Homo sapiens: one gene and its partners. The protein of the gene in region 1 purifies or fractionates together with the protein of each later gene. This does not show direct contact. Each region holds a gene or a part of one and is shown in the gene's direction. Other genes may lie near its edges. The genes, in order: XPO4, ATL3, RIC3, THADA, ZHX1 and CCKBR.

What was found.
Region 2: the proteins of XPO4 (region 1) and ATL3 purify together in Homo sapiens (pull-down; one large-scale study listed by IntAct). This does not show direct contact.
Region 3: the proteins of XPO4 (region 1) and RIC3 purify together in Homo sapiens (co-immunoprecipitation; one large-scale study listed by IntAct). This does not show direct contact.
Region 4: the proteins of XPO4 (region 1) and THADA purify together in Homo sapiens (affinity purification with mass spectrometry, with the first as the bait; one large-scale study listed by BioGRID). This does not show direct contact.
Region 5: the proteins of XPO4 (region 1) and ZHX1 fractionate together in Homo sapiens (co-fractionation; one large-scale study listed by BioGRID). This does not show direct contact.
Region 6: the proteins of XPO4 (region 1) and CCKBR purify together in Homo sapiens (co-immunoprecipitation; one large-scale study listed by IntAct). This does not show direct contact.

The regions. Positions count from the first base shown.
Region 1 is NC_000013.11:20,780,747-20,784,246, reverse strand, and holds part of XPO4 (exportin-4), read left to right. Parts: intron 1-327; coding exon 328-525; 3' UTR 526-3,500. UniProt on the Homo sapiens protein: Mediates the nuclear export of proteins (cargos), such as EIF5A, SMAD3 and isoform M2 of PKM (PKM2). In the nucleus binds cooperatively to its cargo and to the GTPase Ran in its active GTP-bound form.
Region 2 is NC_000011.10:63,654,377-63,657,876, reverse strand, and holds part of ATL3 (atlastin-3), read left to right. Parts: intron 1-3,500. UniProt on the Homo sapiens protein: Atlastin-3 (ATL3) is a membrane-anchored GTPase that mediates the GTP-dependent fusion of endoplasmic reticulum (ER) membranes, maintaining the continuous ER network. It facilitates the formation of three-way junctions where ER tubules intersect.
Region 3 is NC_000011.10:8,159,026-8,162,525, reverse strand, and holds part of RIC3 (protein RIC-3 isoform a precursor), read left to right. Parts: intron 1-3,500. UniProt on the Homo sapiens protein: Molecular chaperone which facilitates proper subunit assembly and surface trafficking of alpha-7 (CHRNA7) and alpha-8 (CHRNA8) nicotinic acetylcholine receptors.
Region 4 is NC_000002.12:43,230,351-43,233,194, reverse strand, and holds the end of THADA (tRNA (32-2'-O)-methyltransferase regulator THADA), read left to right. Parts: intron 1-312; coding exon 313-482; intron 483-1,851; coding exon 1,852-2,247; 3' UTR 2,248-2,344; downstream 2,345-2,844. UniProt on the Homo sapiens protein: Together with methyltransferase FTSJ1, methylates the 2'-O-ribose of nucleotides at position 32 of the anticodon loop of substrate tRNAs.
Region 5 is NC_000008.11:123,264,287-123,267,786, reverse strand, and holds part of ZHX1 (zinc fingers and homeoboxes protein 1), read left to right. Parts: intron 1-400; 5' UTR 401-493; coding exon of another isoform or gene 494-514; intron 515-1,041; exon of another isoform or gene 1,042-1,145; intron 1,146-3,500. Other genes in the region: ZHX1-C8orf76 (zinc fingers and homeoboxes protein 1), read left to right, coding at 494-514. UniProt on the Homo sapiens protein: Acts as a transcriptional repressor. Increases DNMT3B-mediated repressive transcriptional activity when DNMT3B is tethered to DNA. May link molecule between DNMT3B and other co-repressor proteins.
Region 6 is NC_000011.10:6,262,838-6,266,337, forward strand, and holds part of CCKBR (gastrin/cholecystokinin type B receptor), read left to right. Parts: intron 1-3,500. UniProt on the Homo sapiens protein: Receptor for gastrin and cholecystokinin. The CCK-B receptors occur throughout the central nervous system where they modulate anxiety, analgesia, arousal, and neuroleptic activity.

The DNA.
Region 1 (3,500 bases):
AGTTGATTATCACATGGGTCTTGGGGCTAGATTGGTGGACTCTTGCTTGATCTGGGCCATATCACTTCACCTCACTGAGTGTCGAAACCTTCACCTCTGGAATGGGAATAGAAACAGTACCTGTCTCGAAGCATTGTTGTAAATGATAGATGAATTAATCCATGTAAAAGGTTTTCAAACAGTAGTACTTAAATGCTGAATTATTCTAAATGTTAACTCTTAAAAATGTGTCCCTGCCTTTTAGAACCCCACAGTCCAGTAACTGATAAGATCTACTTGTATGATATTCTAAGGAGGATACTTGTGTATACTTTATCTCTTCAATAGGCTGAATATTCTGAACTGGTCGAAACATTACTATCAAGTCAGCAAGACCCAGTTATTTACCAGAGATTAGCAGATGCCTTCAACAAGCTCACTGCAAGCAGCACTCCTCCTACGCTGGATCGGAAGCAGAAGATGGCCTTCTTAAAGAGTTTAGAAGAATTTATGGCAAATGTTGGTGGTCTCCTTTGTGTAAAATAAACAACAGAACTTTATGCTTAATTTAGATCCTTTCTGCAAAGTGCACTGAATTGCTGAAAGTTGACTTGAGTCTTGTCCTATTCCTCAGTTCATTTGGCCATTTTGGATTTTGGAGAGCCTGAAACTTTGATATGTATGTAATACAGTGAAACAGGAGAGGTCAACTTGGCATCAGCTTCTGCTGTTAAGTGTTAGCCACAATCTGTCATATATATGTCTTTTAGATTCTGAATGGTGATTTAAAATTTTCAAAATGAAATTCCATATATGTGCAAACAGATATGGGCACCACGAAATACATATGCAGTGCCTTTTTTCCTTTTAACATAGGTGGCTAGCCAAAGTTTAGAATTTTTGTCATTAAATATGAAATGGATATATGCTAGGCAGTGTTTCTCAAAATCTCCATAGATCGCCTGCATCACTTGAGGAGCTGGTGAAAAGGCAGATTCTTAGGCCCAACTGTAGACCTTCAGAGTCAGAATGTCTGGTTGTTGGGCCCAGGAGTCTTCATGTTAATAAGCTTCTCCCTTTCGTCACCCCAAAAGTTTTGAATCAATGAAAGAGACATTGAAAACTCTTAAGAGGTTTTGTGCTTTCTAGCTTTTCCTCCCTTTGATGATTGGGTTTTATAATTCAGCAGGAAGGGGAAACATCACCAGGGGTTTGTTGGCTTTTTCTTAGCTTGCTTTCTTGCTTGCTTGCTTTCTTGCTTTTCTTGCTTTCTGTCTCTCTCTTTCTTTTCTCTCTCTCTCTCACATCAACCCAGTGCTGCAGGTTTTGTGTAATACAAGTCACTAATCATACTCTGATGCCTGAACTTGAGGAGGAAAATACATGTATATTTTTGTTCCGTAAAAATAACCTTAGGAACTGTAGCCATTTCATTGCCTTAATTTTAAGAGGAAAATACAAAAACAGCTGATTTGTTTTAGTAAGAAACCACGTCTTGATGCTTCAGAGTTGGTTTAGGGTGTTAGCTGCTATGAACCTGTTGCCCCTTTCGATCGTGTATTTATGTAGGTTTATCAGTGAAATGAAAGGCTTGTTTCCGTCTAGTCTAACTTTTTGAGTGTGTTTCTATCCAGCCACATAGCCCATATCTACTCTAAATGGCTTGCTTAAGCAATAATTATTTTAAAGGATGTGAATCACTGATTCACACAGACTATTGCACGTTGGGGCATTAGGGGCAATAATTCTTATCCAGACATGGGAGCCAGTGAATTTAATTTCAGAGATTAAAAATTCACTTTAGATCCTCTAGTTTGATCTCTTAATCAGGATTTTTATACAGCTGCCAGGCTCCCCTAATTCAGTGTGCCAGCTTACAATGTGGAAATGAAAGCTAATTTATACACAGCAGGCATATGAAACTCCACTCATTGCAGTACTTTCACAGCACAGTGACAGGTAGAGGACTCTGGCACAGGTGCACTCATGAAACTCTGCTTCCACCATGTTCCTGACACCTATCTATTAAACCATTCTGCAAATACGGTTTTTCTACCTGATTGCATATAGCATATGTGTCATTACATGTGATGCTGTGCAAAACTTTGTATAATTCTGTGTTATTAACAGTTAACAAAACTGGAGCATCTGAATTACATCCAACCTGTGCATGTGATGTTAGGTAGATGTGAATGCAGGGCCTTGGGCCATAACTTACATTTCTCTCAATTTGATTAGCTTTGAGTCACAATTAAGGGGAAGCAAAAACATCTTGAAAAGACTGCTAGGAAGGAAATTAATATCAGTCATCCAGAAGTACACGTTTCTGTATTTTAAAAAATACTTTGATGCATTTATTTTTAGGTGTTTTTTTTTTCCCCTTAAAAAACTTGAAGTGATATGCAGCAGTAATCTATTTGTTTTGCATTGTTCTTGGTGTTTTGTGTTTCCCAGATCCCTCAAGCTTTCTCAGCTGTTGTGAATTATGTGTATCTGTGTGTGTGCTAAGTACAGTCTCTTTACCAAAGGGCACTGAAACACACAATTGACTGGACAGGTCCACGCGCCATGACAAAACTATAATCAAGTTATTAAAACTAAAGAGGAGTGGGAAAGGAATGCCTTGGTAAGTAAAAAGGCATCTATATTTAATAACTTTTATCCAGATGGCAACATATTTGCAAAATTTGCCCAGATCCTATTACAATACTAAAAATAGAAAATTTCACCTCCATATTCCTGAGGTGTAATTTCATTAGACTAGTTTTAGTTTAAAAAGACCTTCTTCAGATTGGACCAAATAATACTTATAAGATCAGCAGAATGTTGAATATTAGCTCACTGGGGTGGGGAGAAGCCACTACCATTTTTTAGGTGATGGGGATGCCACTGAGTTGCAACGGCTAGACCTTTTCAGGGTGGTTGTGTCCATGTTTGCCTGATTGGATGCTTATTCACTTTGTGTTTTCTTTTGTTTTATTTTGTCCAATTTTGTCTTTAGCTGTGTTTATTAACTTCTCCGGTCTTGTTTTGTTTTAATGCTCTTGGCCCAGTGGGTGTCAAGAACACTGGCTTAATTCAAGTCAGTTGATTTTTTTTCTATTAAAACTGTTGTTAAAATATTTTTTAAAACAAAAACATTATTTGTGCCCTCTTTTATATATGTCAAAGGGACACTGTCAAGTATTTCATTTTTAGATTTTTGTTTTATAAAATTTCTGTTGTTCATATAGTATCCTTTAACCTCTAGTTTTCCATACATCCTTTGTTTGTTTCTCATTTTATTTTCCTTGACCCATTTATTTCCCAAGGCACAATCACTAAAGACTTTGTACTTTCACAGTCTGTTAATGTGGTAGCACCTGTAACTGTGTTCTTGTTCTGTTAAAAGGATTGATTTGCTTTTATAGTCCTTGTGCTGGATGAGTGGCTGCCTCAGTAGCAAAACTACCTGACAGTATTTGACAGTGTCCTTTCCAGCACCATTATTTGGGTCTTTCAGGGTGGCCATCTCTGTTAGA
Region 2 (3,500 bases), on another chromosome or scaffold:
TCAAAAAAAAAAAAAAAAAGCCAATGGCATTTTTAGTTTCATATTGTGTTTTCCACTGGTATATACCTGTTGATTTGTTTGTGTCTTTTATGAACTGTTATTTTCTGAAATTTTTTTTCAATAAAAGGAAGGAAGATGTGAAAACAACTTTTTATCAAAGTGAATGATTTAAAATTAATACATATTGATTGTTTTTAAGATTCTTAAATAAAATGCATGAATATAGTTTAAAAGGTCAGGTACTACTGTAAGGCTTCTAACAGAAAGCAGCTGTCATGTGTGTTATTCTCCTCTCTACCCAGTTTTCACTTCCCAGAGGCTGATGCTCTTATGTGTTACCACTTCTGTTCTTTACTTCCTTACTCCTGTATGGGTGGCACAGACCTGGCTGTTGTTCTGGGAGTTGAGCAGGGAAATGGCATTGGGGATCTCACTGTTCAGAAGGTGGGCATTCACTATCCCCTAGCTATCAGTAGGGCTTCTTAGCCCCAGTCTCATCTATGCCTTGTAAGCTATGGGCATAGAGCCTCTCCACAGATTTCTTTGTAAGGATCGGGAGGGGTAAGTCATGTGTTTCTTATACAGACTTTCATCCATTACTTCTGTTTTTAGCCCAATCCTATAAGCATGCCTTCACACCTGTTTGTCCTTTTTTTTTTTTTTTTTTTGAGATGTAGTCTCACTCTGTTGCCCAGGCTGGAGTGCAGTGGCACCATCTTGGTCACTACAGTCTCCGCCTCCCAGGTTCAAGCAATTCTCCTGCCTCAGCCTCCTCATTAGCTGGGAGTACAGGTGCACACCACCATGCCTGGATAATTTTTGTATTTTTAGTAGAGACAGGGTTTCACAATGTTGGCCAGGCTGGTCTGGAACTCCTGACCTCGTGATCCGCCTGTCTCAGCCTCCCAAAGTGCTGGGATTACAGGGGTGAGCCACCACACCTGGCCACCTTTGATATTTTGAAGTGCTGGAGTGTTGGTACTGAATTCTTTTAGCTTTCATACATCTGAAAAATCTTTATTTTGCCTTTGTTTTGGAAAATATTTACTCTTAGTGTAGAGTTCTAGGCCAACGTATTTTTCTCAGTACTTCAAAGGTGTTGCCCCTTTGCCTTTTTGCTGACATTGTTTCTTTTTTTTTTTTTTGAGAGGGAGTCTCTCTGTTGCTCAGGCTGGAGTGCAGTGGTGCGATCTCGGCTCACTTCAACCTCTGCCTCCCGGGTTCAAGCAATTCTCCTGTCTCAGCCTTCTGAGTAGCTGGGACTACAGGCGCGCACCACCACGCCTGGCTAATTTTTGTATTTTTAGTAGAGACGGGGTTTCGCCATATTGGTCAGGCTGGTCTTGCACTCCTGACCTCAGGTTATTCACCTGCCTCTGTTTCCCAAAGTGCTGGGATTACAAGCATGAGCCACTGTGCCCAGTCTGCTGACATTGTTTCTGACAAGAAATACACTGTTATTCTTATTTTTGTTCTTTTGTACCTAATCTGTCTTTTTTGTCTGGTTGCTTTTTTCTTTAAATTAAAAAAAATTTTATTTTCGTGGGTACATAGGTATATATATTTATAGGGTATGTCTGGTTGCTTTTAAGATTTTATCACTGTTTTTGAGCAAATTATTATGTGTTTTGATGTAGTTCTTTTTTTTTTTTTGAGACGGAGTCTCACTGTGTCGCCCAGGCTGGAGTGCAGTGGCGTGATCTCGGCTCACTGCAAGCTCCGCCTCCCGGGTTCACGCCATTCTCCTGCCTCAGCCTCCCAAGGAGCTGGGACTACAGGCGCCTACCACCACGCCCGGCTAAGTTTTTGTATTTTTAGTAGAGACGGGGTTTCACTGTGTTAGCCAGGATGGTCTCGATCTCCTGACCTCGTGATCTGCCCGCCTTGGCCTCCCAAAGTGCTGGGATTATAGGCGTGAGCCACTGCGCCAGGCTGATGTAGTTCATGTTATTTGTATGTGGGTTTTGTTGAGCTTCTTGAATCTGCAGATTTATAATGTTTATCAAATTTGGACATTTTAAGGTTATTATTTCTTCAAGTTTTTTTGGTCTGTTACTCCCTTTGGAGACTCCTATTACATGTGCCTCTTGCTGCTTGAAGTTGTTCCACAAGATGTTCATTTAAAATTCTTTGGCCGGCGCGGTGGCGCACGTCTGTAATCTCACACTTTGGGAGGCCGAGGTGGGTGGATCACCTGAAGTCAGGAGTTTGAGACTAGCCTGACCAACATGGTGAAAACCCATCTCTACTAAATACAAAAAATTAGCTGGGTGTGATGGGTCATGCCTGTAATCCCAGCTACTTGGGAGGCTGAGGTGGGAGAATCGCTGGAACCCGGGAGGTGGAGGTTGCAGTGAGCCGAGATCGCACCATTGCACTTCCGCCTGGGCAACAAGAGCTAAACTCCATCTAAAAAAAAAAAAAAAGGCCAGATGCGGTGGCTCACGCCTGTATTCCCAGCACTTTGGGAGGCTGGGGTGGGCGGATCACCTGAGGTCAGGAGTTCGAGACCAGCCTGGCCAACATGGTGATGCCCTGTTGCTACTAAAAATACAAACATTAGCTGGGCGTGGTGGCGCCCACCTGTAATCTCAGCTACTTGGGAGGCAGAGGCAGGAGAATTGCTGGAACCTGGGCGGCGGAGATTGCAGTGGGATTAGGAAGAGTACTCAGTCTTGCCTCAGTAATGAGGAATAACAACACTCTGGTTCCATTTAACAAATCTAAACAGCAAGAACAGAAAAAACCAGAGTTTCCAAATTACTTAACTACATCTCAGAATAAAGCTAGATATTTTATAGGAATGCAAAAATAACCAGCACCCAACAAGGGAAAATCCACAAGTCTACATCCTATCAAAAATTTGCAGACATAAAAGAAGCAGAAAAATATAACCCAAATGAGGAGAAAAATCAATCAAAACTGTCTCAGAACTAACACAGATATTAAAATTAACAGAAAACAACTTTTTTTTTTTTTTTTAGACAGTCTTGCTCAACTAAAAATACAAAAATTAGCCGGGTATGGTGGTGTGCACCTGTAATCCCAGCTACTCAGGAGGCTGAGGCAGGAGAATCGCTTGAACCTGGGAGGTGGAGGTTGTGGTGAGCCGAGGTTGCGCCATTGCACTCCAGCCTGGGTGACGAGCAAAACTCTGTCTCAAAAAAAAAAAAAAAATAGGCCAGACATGGTGGCTTAGGCCTGTAATCCCAGCACTTTGGGAGGCCGAGGTGGGTGGATCATCTGAGGTCAGGAGTTCAAGACGAGTCTGACCAACGTGGTGAAACCCTGTCTCTACTAAAAATACAAAAATTAGCCGGGCATGGTGGCTCATGCCTGTAATCCCAGCTACTCGGGAGGCTGAGGCAGGAGAATCGCTTGGACCTGGGAGGTGGAGGTTGCAGTGAGCCAAGATCGTGCCATTGTACTCCAACCTGGGCAACAGAGTGAAACTCCGTAATCCCAGCACTGTGGGAGGCTGAGGCGGGCGGATCATGAGG
Region 3 (3,500 bases), on another chromosome or scaffold:
GATTGGGTTTTATTCTAAAGGCAGATGAGGCATCATTGAGTGTGTAAGGAGAAGAGAAACATTTAACCTGGTTTTAGAAAGGACACCCTGGCAGCAGTGTAGACACTGCGTTGTGAGGATTTCTTCAGGGAGAAGATTGTTGTAGTCATCCAGTTGAGACATCATGAGCATCACCAAGTCATTGTCATTGGGTTCACCAGTTAGGGTGCTTGTGACAAGTGACAGAAAAGTCAGCTTGACTAAGACAGGGAATTTATTGACTTGTGTAAATGAAAAGACCCTGTGTTAGAAATGTCTTGCAGTATGGTTTGAACCAGAGACTCACAGTTGTCACACTGGGGCTCTAGCTCTTATTTTCTGTGTCCTTTTCACTCTGGGTTCGTTCTCAAGTTGGTTCTGTGCTCTGGCTGCCCTCTCAGGGTGGTAGCAATGGTTGCAACAGTTTCGGACATTACCTCCTCACATTCCATTGCCCGGAGAAAGTGAGTGTCTCATTTATAGCAACAGTTTCGGACATTACCTCCTCACATTCCATTGCCCGGAGAAAGTGAGTGTCTCATTTATAGCAACAGTTTCGGACATTACCTCCTCACATTCCATTGCCCGGAGAAAGTGAGTGTCTCATTTATAGCAACAGTTTCGGACATTACCTCCTCACATTCCATTGCCCGGAGAAAGTGGGAGTGTCTCATTTATATACGTGTGTGTGTAGAGCTGGCCTGGAACTCCTGGCCTCAAGTCATTGTCCCACCTCAGCCTCCTAACGTGCTGGGATTACAGCACTTTGCTGGGCACAGCTCCAGGCCTCTTTTCTTTTAAGTCCTCCATCACTCTCACCTTCCAGCCTCACTCCCAAGATTCTTTCCCAGAAGTTCCAGCAAACATATCCGTTCACGTTAATGGCTTGAATTAAGTTAACTTGTGGTGCTGTGGGTAGAAAGAATATACTGATGAATCCACTCTGGAGTTGAGAGGAGTTCCCAAAGGAAAATATGGATATTAGAGCAAGAGAGGTTATCAATGGATAGATTGGAGGGAAGAGAATAATTTTAAGAGACATTTTAAAATAGAATGGGAAAGTGAGGGAGAGGGAGACATCTGGATTATTCTCAGGTTTAGGTGAAGGGATAGATGTTGATTTCCTTTGCCAAAATAGGAATGGAGGAAAAGTAGATTAAAGGTGTGTGAAAAGAAAATAAAAACTTGGGACCCCAGTTCACTATGCCAAAAGGAAAAAATTAAGCTGAAAGCTGAGTCGTGCAAGAAACTGCCTTTCCTTTTGTTCCTAAGCAGGTAGCTACAGATAAAAAATTAAATATCTCTACAGGTAGCTACTCTATGTTCACCGTATCTTACGTGAAGTGCCGATTTACTGAGCACCAGATGAATACATAATTGACTATTCCTCTACCTGCTCCTTTTCTCTTGCAACATATAGATTACCATACCCTTCTTTCCCCTCCAGCTCACTTTTCCCCTTGAAATATTGAAGCCCTCAAAATCATCTTTGGAGAAAGGCACAGACCTCTCTCCTGGGCGTGTCCTTAACGTTGGCAAAATAAACTTCTAAATTGATTGAGGCCTGTCCCAGATACTTTTTGGTTTACAGGTGTAAGATGATTAATCCAGGAATTGGAAAAGTAGTATTATGTCCCTTTCTTCAGTCTTCTTTCCTGTGTTAACATCCCTAGCTCCCTCATCCGTTCCTGGTATGACCTAGGTGCAAGTGTTTGAACACAGCCCTCTCAGAAGAGGCTCTTAGAACTGCAAATAACAGCATATCTAAGACAGTTCATGAAAGAGCAATCTGTTGTTTCCCTGCACTCTTCTTCTTCTATACTTAATGCTTTCTGGGGATTGCTCTAGTTTTTAGCATTTTCCTTGCTGACTTTGCTGTATATTAGAATTCTGAGCCTTTTTTTCTTCTTTTTAATAGGAGCTGCTCATCTAGGTTTTGTTCATTTTCTACTGTTCACTTGATGTTTCGGAATGAAATGTAGGAATTTGTAGTTTTCCTTGTTGCATTTTATTTGTTTAAATTTGGCCAAGAATTCTAGCTCTTGAAATTTTTTCAGAGCATTCAATGTTTCATTCAATGTATCTGCTTACCATTTCTTAGCTGTGTGCCATTCTTGATTTTTAAAAAACTTTTTGTTAAAGACATTTTCAAACATAAGCAAAAGTTGAGAGAGTAGTAAAATGAATCCATATCATCCTGCTTCAGCAGCCATCAATACATGGTCAGTCTTGTGTCATGGGTATCCCCACCCACTTTTCCCCCCATTCACTGGATTATTTTGAAGCAAATCCTAGACATTGGATCATTTTTCATCCTTAAATGCTTCAGTATGCATCTCTAAAAACAGATTCTTATTAAAATGTAGCCACAATACCATTGTCACACCTAAAAAGTCAATACTTCCTTGATGTCATTAAATATCTAGTTGGTGTTCAAATTTTTCCCACCATGTTATAATTTTTCTTTTTTTCTTTCTTTTTTTACAATTTTACCTTTGATTATGATCAGCATGTTTTCTCTTTTTGTTTGTTTTTTCTCAGGCTGGAGTGTAGTGGCAGGATCTGAGTTCACTGCAACCTCTGCCTCCCAAGTTCAAGCAATTGTCCTGCCTCATCCTCCTGAGAAGCTGGGATTACAGGCATCCACCACCACGCCTGGCTAATTTTTTTTGTATTTTTAGTAGAGACGGAGTTTCACCATGTTGGCCAGGCTGGTATCGAACCCTTGACCTCAGATGATCTGCCTGCCTTGGCCTCCCAGAGTGCTGGAGTTACAGACATGAGCCACCATGCCCAGCCTCAGCATGTTTTCTTGATAGGTCAAATTATTTTTTTAAATGTCTTAGTCATTTAAAACTGCTTTTAGAGTCCCACCACTGTATTCATGGAAACGTTTTGTTTAGGGTCATTCAACCAGTTGGTTATTTGGTTGCTCTATTCCATCTTACTCTGTCACCCTGGTTTGCCTCCTTCCTCCTTCCCCACTTCAGTCTATTCTCAATATAGCTGCCAGATAGTATTATGTTGAAGCTTAAGTCAACTCACATCTCTCCCCTCCTCAAAACTCTACAGTGGCTTCCTGGCTTAGATGAAAAGATAGTCTATACATGACCCAAAAGGCCCTATGTAATTCTCTTCCCCATTTGCTTCTACTTTTCTATCTGTCTCACTTTGTTGTGGCCACACTGGCTTCCTCCTCACTGTTCCTTGAATATGCCAAGCATGTTCCCACTTCAGTGCCTTTGCATTTGCTGTTTCCCTTGTTTGAAATGCTCTTCTTTTGGATATCCATGTGCCTTTCCCTTCGTCTTCATGTTTTCTCTCAAACTGCATTTCCTGATGCCTTCTCTGGCCATTCCAGCTAAAATCTTAACTTCCAACACGGTCCTACCCCTTCTCCCTGTCTTATTTTTTCTCCTTAGTATTTATCATTATCTTGTTTATTGTCTCTTTTCCTACTTAGAAAGGAGGCTCTGTGGCCG
Region 4 (2,844 bases), on another chromosome or scaffold:
GATCCTTCTGGTGACACTGGAGGAGCAGAGGGGAGATAACTCTCTAATCCTGCAGATGGAACTGCTTCTGTCCACACTGAGTTAGGGGGCATGGAAACAGTGGGTTCAGGCCTATGACTCATTCTAACAGTATAAATAGCAGGATTCAGAAGGTGATTAATCGTCTCCAGTGAGCCCACCCTACCAGCTTCCCTGCCAGGCTGGTGGCAGCGATTTTACCTGAGGCCTTTATTGTTCCCAGGGTCCTGCAGGCTGCCCTGGGGTCGGCCCTGAGCAGTATATTCATTGCTCACCTTTCTCCTGTCTTTGCAGAGTTTGCCTTCTGCCAGGTGGATGCCTCCATCGCTCTGGCCCTGGCCCTGGCCGTCCTGTGTGATCTGCTCCAGCAGTGGGACCAGTTGGCCCCTGGACTGCCCATCCTGCTGGGATGGCTGTTGGGAGAGAGTGATGACCTCGTGGCCTGTGTGGAGAGCATGCATCAGGTGATCCCGGGGTGTCAGGGGAGTAGGAGGCAGGGTTGGAGTGTCCTAAACCCGCTAGATGCAGCACCTACAGCCTCAGCTGGGCTTTTGCATGCTTAGACACAGAGCAGGAACCACTAGGAAAGTCACCCACTGGGTGCTGCCGAGGACACGGGGACACTCTTAGGCTGACTTCTGGGGTGCTGATGGTCAGCCTCCAGCTTAGCCAGGGGAGAGAACTCGGAAAGAAGCCCCTGGCCGGGCACAGCGGCTCATGCTTGTAATCCCAGCACTTTGGGAGGCCAAGGCAGGCGGATCATGAGGTCAGGAGATCGAGACCATCCTGGCTAACACGGTGAAACCCCGTCTCTACTAAAAATACAAAAAATTAGCCGGGCATGGTGGTGGGTGCCTGTAGTCCCAGCTACTCGGGAGGCTGAGGCAGGAGAATGGCGTGAACCTGGGAGGCGGAGGTTGCAGTGAGCCGAGATTGCACCACTGCACTCCAGCCTGGGCAACAGAGCAAGACTCCATCTCAAAAAAAAAAGAAAAGAAAAGAAAAGAAAAAAAGAAGCCCCTGGATGCGGAGAGTTTTATTATGGAGACTGCTTGTTAGTCAGTATTGGAGTTAGCCTGGGGCTTCCCAAAGTTAGGTCTGAGGGTGAAGCATTTTCAGAGAATTAGGATCTTTGCTGGGAACTTCCTGCTTGAAGAAAACTATTATTAGCCCCCTCCAGGGTGGGTGCAGTCACAGATAGGGAAACTGAGGACAAAGACAAGCAGCAAAAGCATCCTGAGAACTGAAATTGATCGCCACCAGCATCTGACTCAGCTGGCCTTCTTGGCATCCCCAGCAGGCCAAGGGTTCAAAACGCATTGTCCCTCTTTATGAGAAATTTGGAGACATGGTAAGTGTCTGACAAAAGGACCTTGAGAATCACAGTGTTATAGAAACAGGACACAGCCTAGTGTCCTGTGTTTGGAGATTCCTTCCTCTCTGGCCTGCTGCAGAGATGACCTTTCCTCCCTCCTCTCCAATTTCCAGCTGCACCTTAAACTCTAGAGCCCACTCCCTTGTTGAAGTCCCCTTTTCAGCATCCATCCCCCAAAGTATCTTGACTTTGAACCACAAACACATCTTTATCCAAGGTCATGTTAAGTCTGGGGAAAAAATTCCTCTCTGGTGGAGAAATACAGTGAGTGAAAATAGAAGGTGACCTTCAAGGCTGCAAGTGGTGTGTGTACATGGATGTTGACAGGCAAGAGTGCACCCTCTGTCAGGTGGGGGAAGGGAAACCCCTCTTGCATCTGGCAGGGTACTGCTTGGTCTGGACTGGGGCTTGTCACCATTCCCTGTAAGACTGACTTTCGGCTTTTTCATCTGATTTAGGTGGAAGAAGACTACCTGTTTGAAAAAGCAGAAGTCAACTTTTGGGCCGAGACCCTGATCTTTGTGAAATACCTCTGCAAGCACCTCTTCTGTCTCCTCTCAAAGTCCGGCTGGCGTCCCCCAAGCCCTGAGATGCTCTGTCACCTTCAAAGGATGGTGTCAGAGCAGTGCCACCTCCTGTCTCAGTTCTTCAGAGAGCTTCCACCAGCTGCTGAGTTTGTGAAGACAGTGGAGTTCACAAGACTACGCATTCAAGAGGAAAGGACTTTGGCTTGCTTGAGGCTGCTGGCCTTTTTGGAAGGAAAGGAAGGGGAAGACACCCTAGTTCTCAGTGTTTGGGACTCTTATGCAGAATCGAGGCAGTTAACTCTTCCAAGAACAGAAGCGGCATGTTGAAGAAAATCTGGGGGATTGGGATGGGGGTATGTGTGGATTTTTCCTCCACTAAATCTGCAGGAAACATGTTGAACATAAATTCAAAAATTTTATCCCATTCATGCCTCCCCTACTTCTGTGAGTCCAGTCGTCTGTCACTCCTTACAGAGAAACTTTTCTTCAGTTCACTCATTCAGGGCAGCCTATTTTATTGCTGCTACTGTAGGAAGTGAGGCGACTCCGTTGCAGATTTACTCTGTCCCCAGGTGCAGGCCACCTGCAGGCCTGAATGAGCCTTTTTCATCCCCCAGGGCCTCTAATGCCCTGCCATAGCCGCCCTGCATTCTCTGTGAAATGACTACAGAGAGTTGGATTTTAGCACATACACATGATCCCTCCCCTCTCCCCTTTTCTGGCTTTATGTAGGGGCTGGATTAGTTGGCAAACAGCCCATTTGGTCAGATTTGTGAATTTTGTTCCATTTTAGCAAAGCAGAAATATGTTCCAAATGTTGGATCCTGGGAGAATTCAGGATCAACTTTGCACAAATAATTTATTTTTATTGTCTGCATGTGTTAAGTCCTGCAGTGACCTACACATTCCATCCTAATTATTCAA
Region 5 (3,500 bases), on another chromosome or scaffold:
CAGGTGATCCGCCGGCCTTGGCCTCCCGAAGTGCTGGGATTACAGGTGTGAGCCACCGCGCCCGGCCGGTATACTCATTTTAAAGAACTCCCAATTTCTGCATCTCAATTTTCACACTAGAGACGGCATATATTCACGTTTTGAAATTTTATTCAAAATGGTCTAATAGTTATTTAGTTGTTCTATATGATATAAATAGAGTTTTTTTAATGTGTAGTTTTTGTGTTTACTACCAATATTAGGATTGGTATTTAAATGGTTCTTTTAAAGTTTTGATGAGGGAATAAACTTTTTTTTTCAAAATTACATTTATTTATTAAAAGCTAAGGCATTAAATTGTAAAAATTTCCTGACTAAGGCTAAATTATATCTAGAATAATAAAATATGACTTTTTTGTAGGAGAAGACAGACTGCTGCTTTGGACCTGTTGGTAATGATGGCCTGAGCTAAACATCTAACTAGAAGGGATACCCTTCCATTTCAAAGAACAGAATGCTAAGGAAGCTGTGGCAAGTATGTGTTTCATTGTTTTGGTATGGTAAAACTCAGATACTGAATGTACTCACTTTAGATCCCATGATACTATATTTGTCTAAAGTTTTTAAAAGCTTTCCTTAAAAAGCAGCAGACATATGCTTAACACTTTTTTTTAATATACTTTCAAATTTTAAGAGCTATAAGTATAGGACTGCTTTAATTTAAAAGGAGACGGCATCATACTTCATAATAAATCTTGTATATTTATAATTGATTTTAAAATTAGTATTTGATAAAATCTGCTGTGTCAGGCACTATACCAAGTGCTGTGATAACAGAGGTAAACAAGACAAAATGTACCTTTGGTATGGGGAAATTGATCTAGAAATTTTGCTATGCTTTTGCCTATATCCAGAAAAATGCTTCAGGATGTACAAGAACAAATTCTGAAACTGTATTTTCAAAACGTAGGCTACTAATAATAGTTAATTATAAGAGTCAGGATATTAATTAAATACTCTTACTTATATTAACCATACCAAAACTTAAATATTTGAATATTGATCCTTTTGTAGTTCTTAAGTGTGATGATTGGGTTTTCATGCTTATGTGTGAAATGTGCCTTTCTCAAACCTTGTTATGACACTGGCACATTACCTGTGTGACGTAAAAAATATATATATATTTGAATGTATTTGTACATAATTGTTTTTATATTTTATCTGATTAATTAATTGGCTTTTATAAGAAGCATTTGTCCTATTGTTATTTTAGATGATTCCAGAAAATACTAGGAAAGATTTGATAAACATTAATGTGGCAGTTTTCATTTTTAAAAAATGGATAACAGAGTTCTTATAAGTTGATATTACCAATACTGATTACTATTATCTTTCAAAGTATTTTGAAAAATCAAATCATTATATCCTCAGTGAAGTGGGTAACAGTTACCTTACCATTATAAATAGGGAAGATAATGACCAGATGAATGGTTTTTCAGTCTTCAAAGGTAATCTCACTTGGAACTGAGAATAGCATTCTTGTGTTAGACTGGCTGTAAAAGACTTAACACACCTTCTTGAGAAAAGTAGGGAAAAATTGTTTTCAGTAGAAAATGACTTTTCGATCACATTCACAAACTCTTCACAAGATAAGAGATTTCATGATACTGCTAGTTTATATATCACTTTCAATGTATTACGTACTTACCTACCTACCTGCCAGCTGTGGGGAGAAAACTAGGATGTTAGTGTCCTAGGGAGAGACCTTTCAAAAAGACATTTCACTCCCGCAAATCTGTGGTCAGAGCTTGCCAGAAAAAAATCTGTCCGATTTGGATTCTTCTTTTAATCTTTAGTGTCATTAAGGTCTGCTTTCTCAGATGGAAAAAAACAGATAGAGAGGATAGGGTTTCTTACCTTTCAGCCTTAATTAGCATTAGCAAAGGTATCCTCTGACATTTGATTATCTTTGACCACAATTTCTTAGATGCTTTCACTTTTATTATTTTTATTCCTGTTTGTATATTCACTTTAATACTTGATTTTCTATTGTCTTGAGACTATTTTTTACAGTTTTCTTGAGACTTATCTCTCAGGTCATGATTGTAGGTTACCAGCAATCTTTAAAAACATTTGCTGTGGATGTAAATTTGTGTTGTCAAATTCCTAATTTAATTTTTTAAGAACTTGATGTTTCTAAATGTTTTAACATTTTATTTTTATTTTTACATTTTAACTTTGAAAATACCTTAATTGTATAAAATCACCTTTATTTTTTTTAACACGGTGGATACCTTTTGTTTTAATATGACCTAATTCTTTGTTTGTACTGTTTAGGCATTCCGTGATTTTTGTGGATTTGTAACTTCTAGTTGAATACAAACGTGTTAAAGTATTTTCAGCTGGCTAAACAGAACTCTTGACTCAGAGAGAAGTGAAACTAAATAGAATACAGAGTCCCAAACATTCTCGGTATATATACAAATGCAGATTCCAAGGGATTCTCAGTGTGTATATTTTTGCTACCTAAGAACAGTTTTATTTTTGATGCTACATCAAAATTAACATGATCCCTAAAAACTATAGTATCTTCTAAATGCTCTTTTTTTTTTTTTTTTGAGACAGAGTTGTGCTCTTATCATCCAGGCTGGAGTGCAATGGCGCAATCTCGGCTTACTGCAACCTTCTTCTCCCAGGTTCAAGCGATTCTCCTGCCTCAACCTCCCGAGTAGCTGGAATTATAAGTGCACGCCACGACGCCGGGCTAATTTTTGTATTTTTAGTAGAGACAGGGTTTCACCATGTTGGCCAGGCTGGTCTCAAACTCCTGACCTCAGGTGATCCACCCGCCTCGGCCTCCCAAAGTGCTGGGATTACATGCGTGAGCCACCTCACTCAGCCCTAAATGCTCTTATTTGACCCAGAATTGTTGTAAAAAACAAAGTTTGTGGCCAGGCACAGTGGGTCATGCCTGTAATCCCAGCACTTTGGGAGGCCGAGGCGGGTGGATTATGATGTCAGGAGTTCAAGACCAGCCTGGACAAGATGGTGAAACCCCGTCTCTACTAAAAAAAATACAAAAATTAGCCAGGCGTGGTGGCGGGCGCCTGTAATCCCAACTACTTGGGAGGCTGAGGCAGAGAATTGCTTGAACCTGGGAGGCGGCGGTTGCAGTGAGCCGAGATTGCCCCAGTGCACTCCAGCCTGGGCAACAGAGTGGGACTCCGTCTCAAGAAAAAAAAGTTTGTTTTTATTCATGTAAAATCTTACCAAATAGCATGCTTTTGTGGCTAACCAGGCCAACATATTGTTATCTGTTAATCATTTAATTTGAAGTCCAAACAGCCAGAAAAACCAGAAGCTTGCAAATTCAGTGCAGTTGTGGCTCTGTTTAATTATAAAATATTTTAGACTTTTTTTTAGTAGTGGGTAAGCATAGAATTTGAAACAATCCACTAACTTCTTATAGTGTATTACATTGAGGACTTATTTTTAATCTTTTTTAAAATGTAGTAGAACAC
Region 6 (3,500 bases), on another chromosome or scaffold:
AGCTTTTTAAAATGTTTGTTGGTGATTGGGCCGAGAGAGGAAGATTGAAGGTGCAGATAAGAAAGGGGATAGTCAATAGAGAAGATTCCCTGTGAAAGCGGGATGTGACGCAATTCAGAGCACAGGTGCAAAAATTTGCCTCACTTATCTAAATGCTCCTCACACATTTGGATGTTACCCAGCCAGTCAGATGTTACACACAGAGACCCTGTCAGCCACACTCATTCAGATATTATCCCTGCAGATGCATAGGTTACCCAGGTTCACTCCAATGTTACCAATAGGAATTTGGATGTTACCACTTTATTCTCCTTATATAATCCATGCAGACTTGAGTATTACCCATGTTCACTCAGATAGTACCCACAGAAAGACAAATGTTACCACACTCACTTTAATATTGTCCGAAGTCATTTTGGTGTTACCCATCCATCAAACACTACTCACTTTCATTTTATTATTATCCACACACAACCAGATATTACCTATGCTCACTTAAGTAAGCTTTTCCCAGATACTACCCATAAAATTACAAATATTACTCTCACATACTCAGATAATACCCACAAAAGCTTAAATATTACTTACATTCACTCAGGTGCTCAGTTATTTCATTTACTCAGATTAACATCTTTTTTTTTTTTTTTTTTTTGAGGCAGTCTCCCTCTGTTGCCCAGGCTGGGGTGCAGTAGCATGATCATGGCTCATTGCAGTCTTGACCTCCGCAGGCTCAAGTGATCCTCCCACCTCAACCCCCTAAATAGCTGGGACTACAGGCATGTGCCACCACAAGTGGCTAATTTTTTGTATTTTTTGTAGAGATAGGGTTTTTCCATGTTGCCCAGGCTGGTCTCTAAATCCTTGGCTTAAGAGATCTGCCCACCTCAGCCTTCCAAAGTGCTGGGATTACAGATATAAGCCACCATGTCTGGCCCAGATTAACATCTTAATTTAGTTAACATGTTAACATCTAACATCTGTACTCAAATACTACCCATACATACTTGGATATTACTTCTGCTCAGTCAGCAATTTCTATCATTATTTGGATATTCCACTACTCACAAGTAGACCTCTGAATGTAATCTATGCTTCCTGAAGATGTTACCTACAAAATGTTATCTACAGAGAGTTGGATATTAACCCTTGCTCTTTCAAATGTTACTACAGTGACTCAGATATTATCTAAACTTAAATGTAAGCCATATTCAATCGGATATTACCTATAAGCATGTAGATGTTACCATTCTCCAGATATGTCCCACAGAAATAAGCGTGACTTTCACCTACCCATATACTATTTCAAAGATTAAAGTATGCCCAACACTCACTCTGATATTACCTACACACCCTTGCATATTACTTCTGCTCCCTCAGTACCCACTATGTGGATTCCCCCATTCACCCAGCCACTACCCACAGTCAGTTGGATGTGATCCCTGCTTATCATAGAGACAAGGGTATTACTTTGATGTCTGTGTGCATGGGTGAACAGATCAAACCTGCCAGTAGAATGCAGAATTTAAGGCATCAGCAGCTTCAGTGTTCTGTGGAGTTTTTCCTTAGAAAGTCTTGGTTTTCATTTTATGTCACGTTGTCTGGATTTTTGCACTCATACTTCTCTGCCATTATCTAGACAGAACAAATACAGATCTTCTAAACACCAGGAGAAGAACTGAACTGTCCCAATCTTCTGAGTCGCCTGGTCTGATGCCAGTTTTCCTCATCCCCAGGAAGATGATGAGATGATGCTCACGGGTAGACTTATCAAGGCACTTGTGGATGTACCCCAGCAGGTGCTATCTCCCATCCTTCTACCCATGCCTGTTTCCTAGTCACTGAAGCCACTGTCATCACTCATATTCCACCATGCAAACACACATCAATACACACACACACACACACACGCATACAAGTCTAAGTCTGATTTATTTTGTGCATGACTTTTTAAACTAATGGATTATTTTTAGAGCAGTTTTAAGTTTACAAAAATTACAGAGTGCCCATACACACACAACCACACATATACACAGAATTTACCCTATTATTAACAGCTTACATTAGTGTGGTACATGTGTCACAATTTATGAGCCAATATCAATACATTATTCTCTAAATTCTAGAGTTTACATTAGGGTTCACTTTTTGTGTTGTATGGTTCTATAGGTTTTGACAAATGTATAATGGCATGTATCCATCATTACAGTATCACACAGAATAGTTTCACTGCCCTAAAAATCCCCTGTACTTCATCTATTTATCCCTCGCTCTGCCTCTCCAAACTCCTGGCTCTAAAATTGCTTTTAATTAGAATTTTTCACATTTCTGAACTGTTCAACAGCAAAGACGTGTGGAGACAGTGGTGGCTGGAAATAAGATAATAGCTAGGAATGTCCAGTAAAACAGCAGAACACTGCACAGTTGCTGGTCATTTTTACTGGGACTTTGTCTTATAAATTTCAGGAGTCCCCAAGCATATTGCAAACTTTATAAGGGTAATATTTAGCTCCATCTTTATGGTCTATCACAATTAGCCAAGTTCAAGGGCACACACATGGGACATCAGCTGGATGAATGAATGAGAAATTGCTTTTCATGCTTCACAGTACTGTACCAATTTGAGGTGTGGCGAATTGCATCAATAATTAGTTGAAGAAAGACATCCAGGGCAGATGTAAGCAAGATAATGGAACTAGAAAGATTAAAGAGGTGGAGGCTGGGGGTGGGAGGACAATGGATTTGGAGAAGAAACAGTGAGTCCAAGATAAACCACCAGCTCTTTTCTGAGTCCAAGGACCTCTCTGACAGAGGTCTCCCTCCTAAAAGTCCTTTATTCTCCACCATACACACTTACTCCCCTCAAATTTTGTCACCTATAAGCCTTCTGTAATCCTTCCTTACAGAGAGAGGCCCAGCTTCTAAAGGAAATATAGATGGTTTGCATATAAAAAACAAAAGTTATGCATCTGAAATCATAACCTCTCACTGACCCCCACAAGGACCTTCCAACATGTGTCTCCAAAAAGACAGAGGCAAAGAAGAAGAAGAAAGGGCATGCTGGAGCACCTCTGCAGAGATGACGGATGGATGAGGAGGGGGAAAGCAGGTGCACTTCTGTCTTGAAAGACAGAATCATCCAAGATTCATTAACAAGCATGTGTTGACTGCCTCCCCTGTGCTAGGGATGATGAGTGCTAGGGATATACTGGAGAGCGAGATGGACCTTGCCACTGTCCTCAAGAAGCTCCTAGTCTAGTGGGGAAGACAGAGAATTACATACATACTAATACAGTGAAAAATGCCATGGTTGAGTATAGAGAGAGGGAGAAAGAGGCATTTAGATTGAGATTTGATTAAGAAGGAGGCAGTATGGGCCAGGCGTAGTGGCTCAAACCTGTAATCCCAGCACTTTGGGAGGCCAAAGCAGGTGATCACCTGAGGTCGGGAGTTCGAGACCAGCCTTACCAATATGGAGAAACCCATCTCTACTAAAAATACAA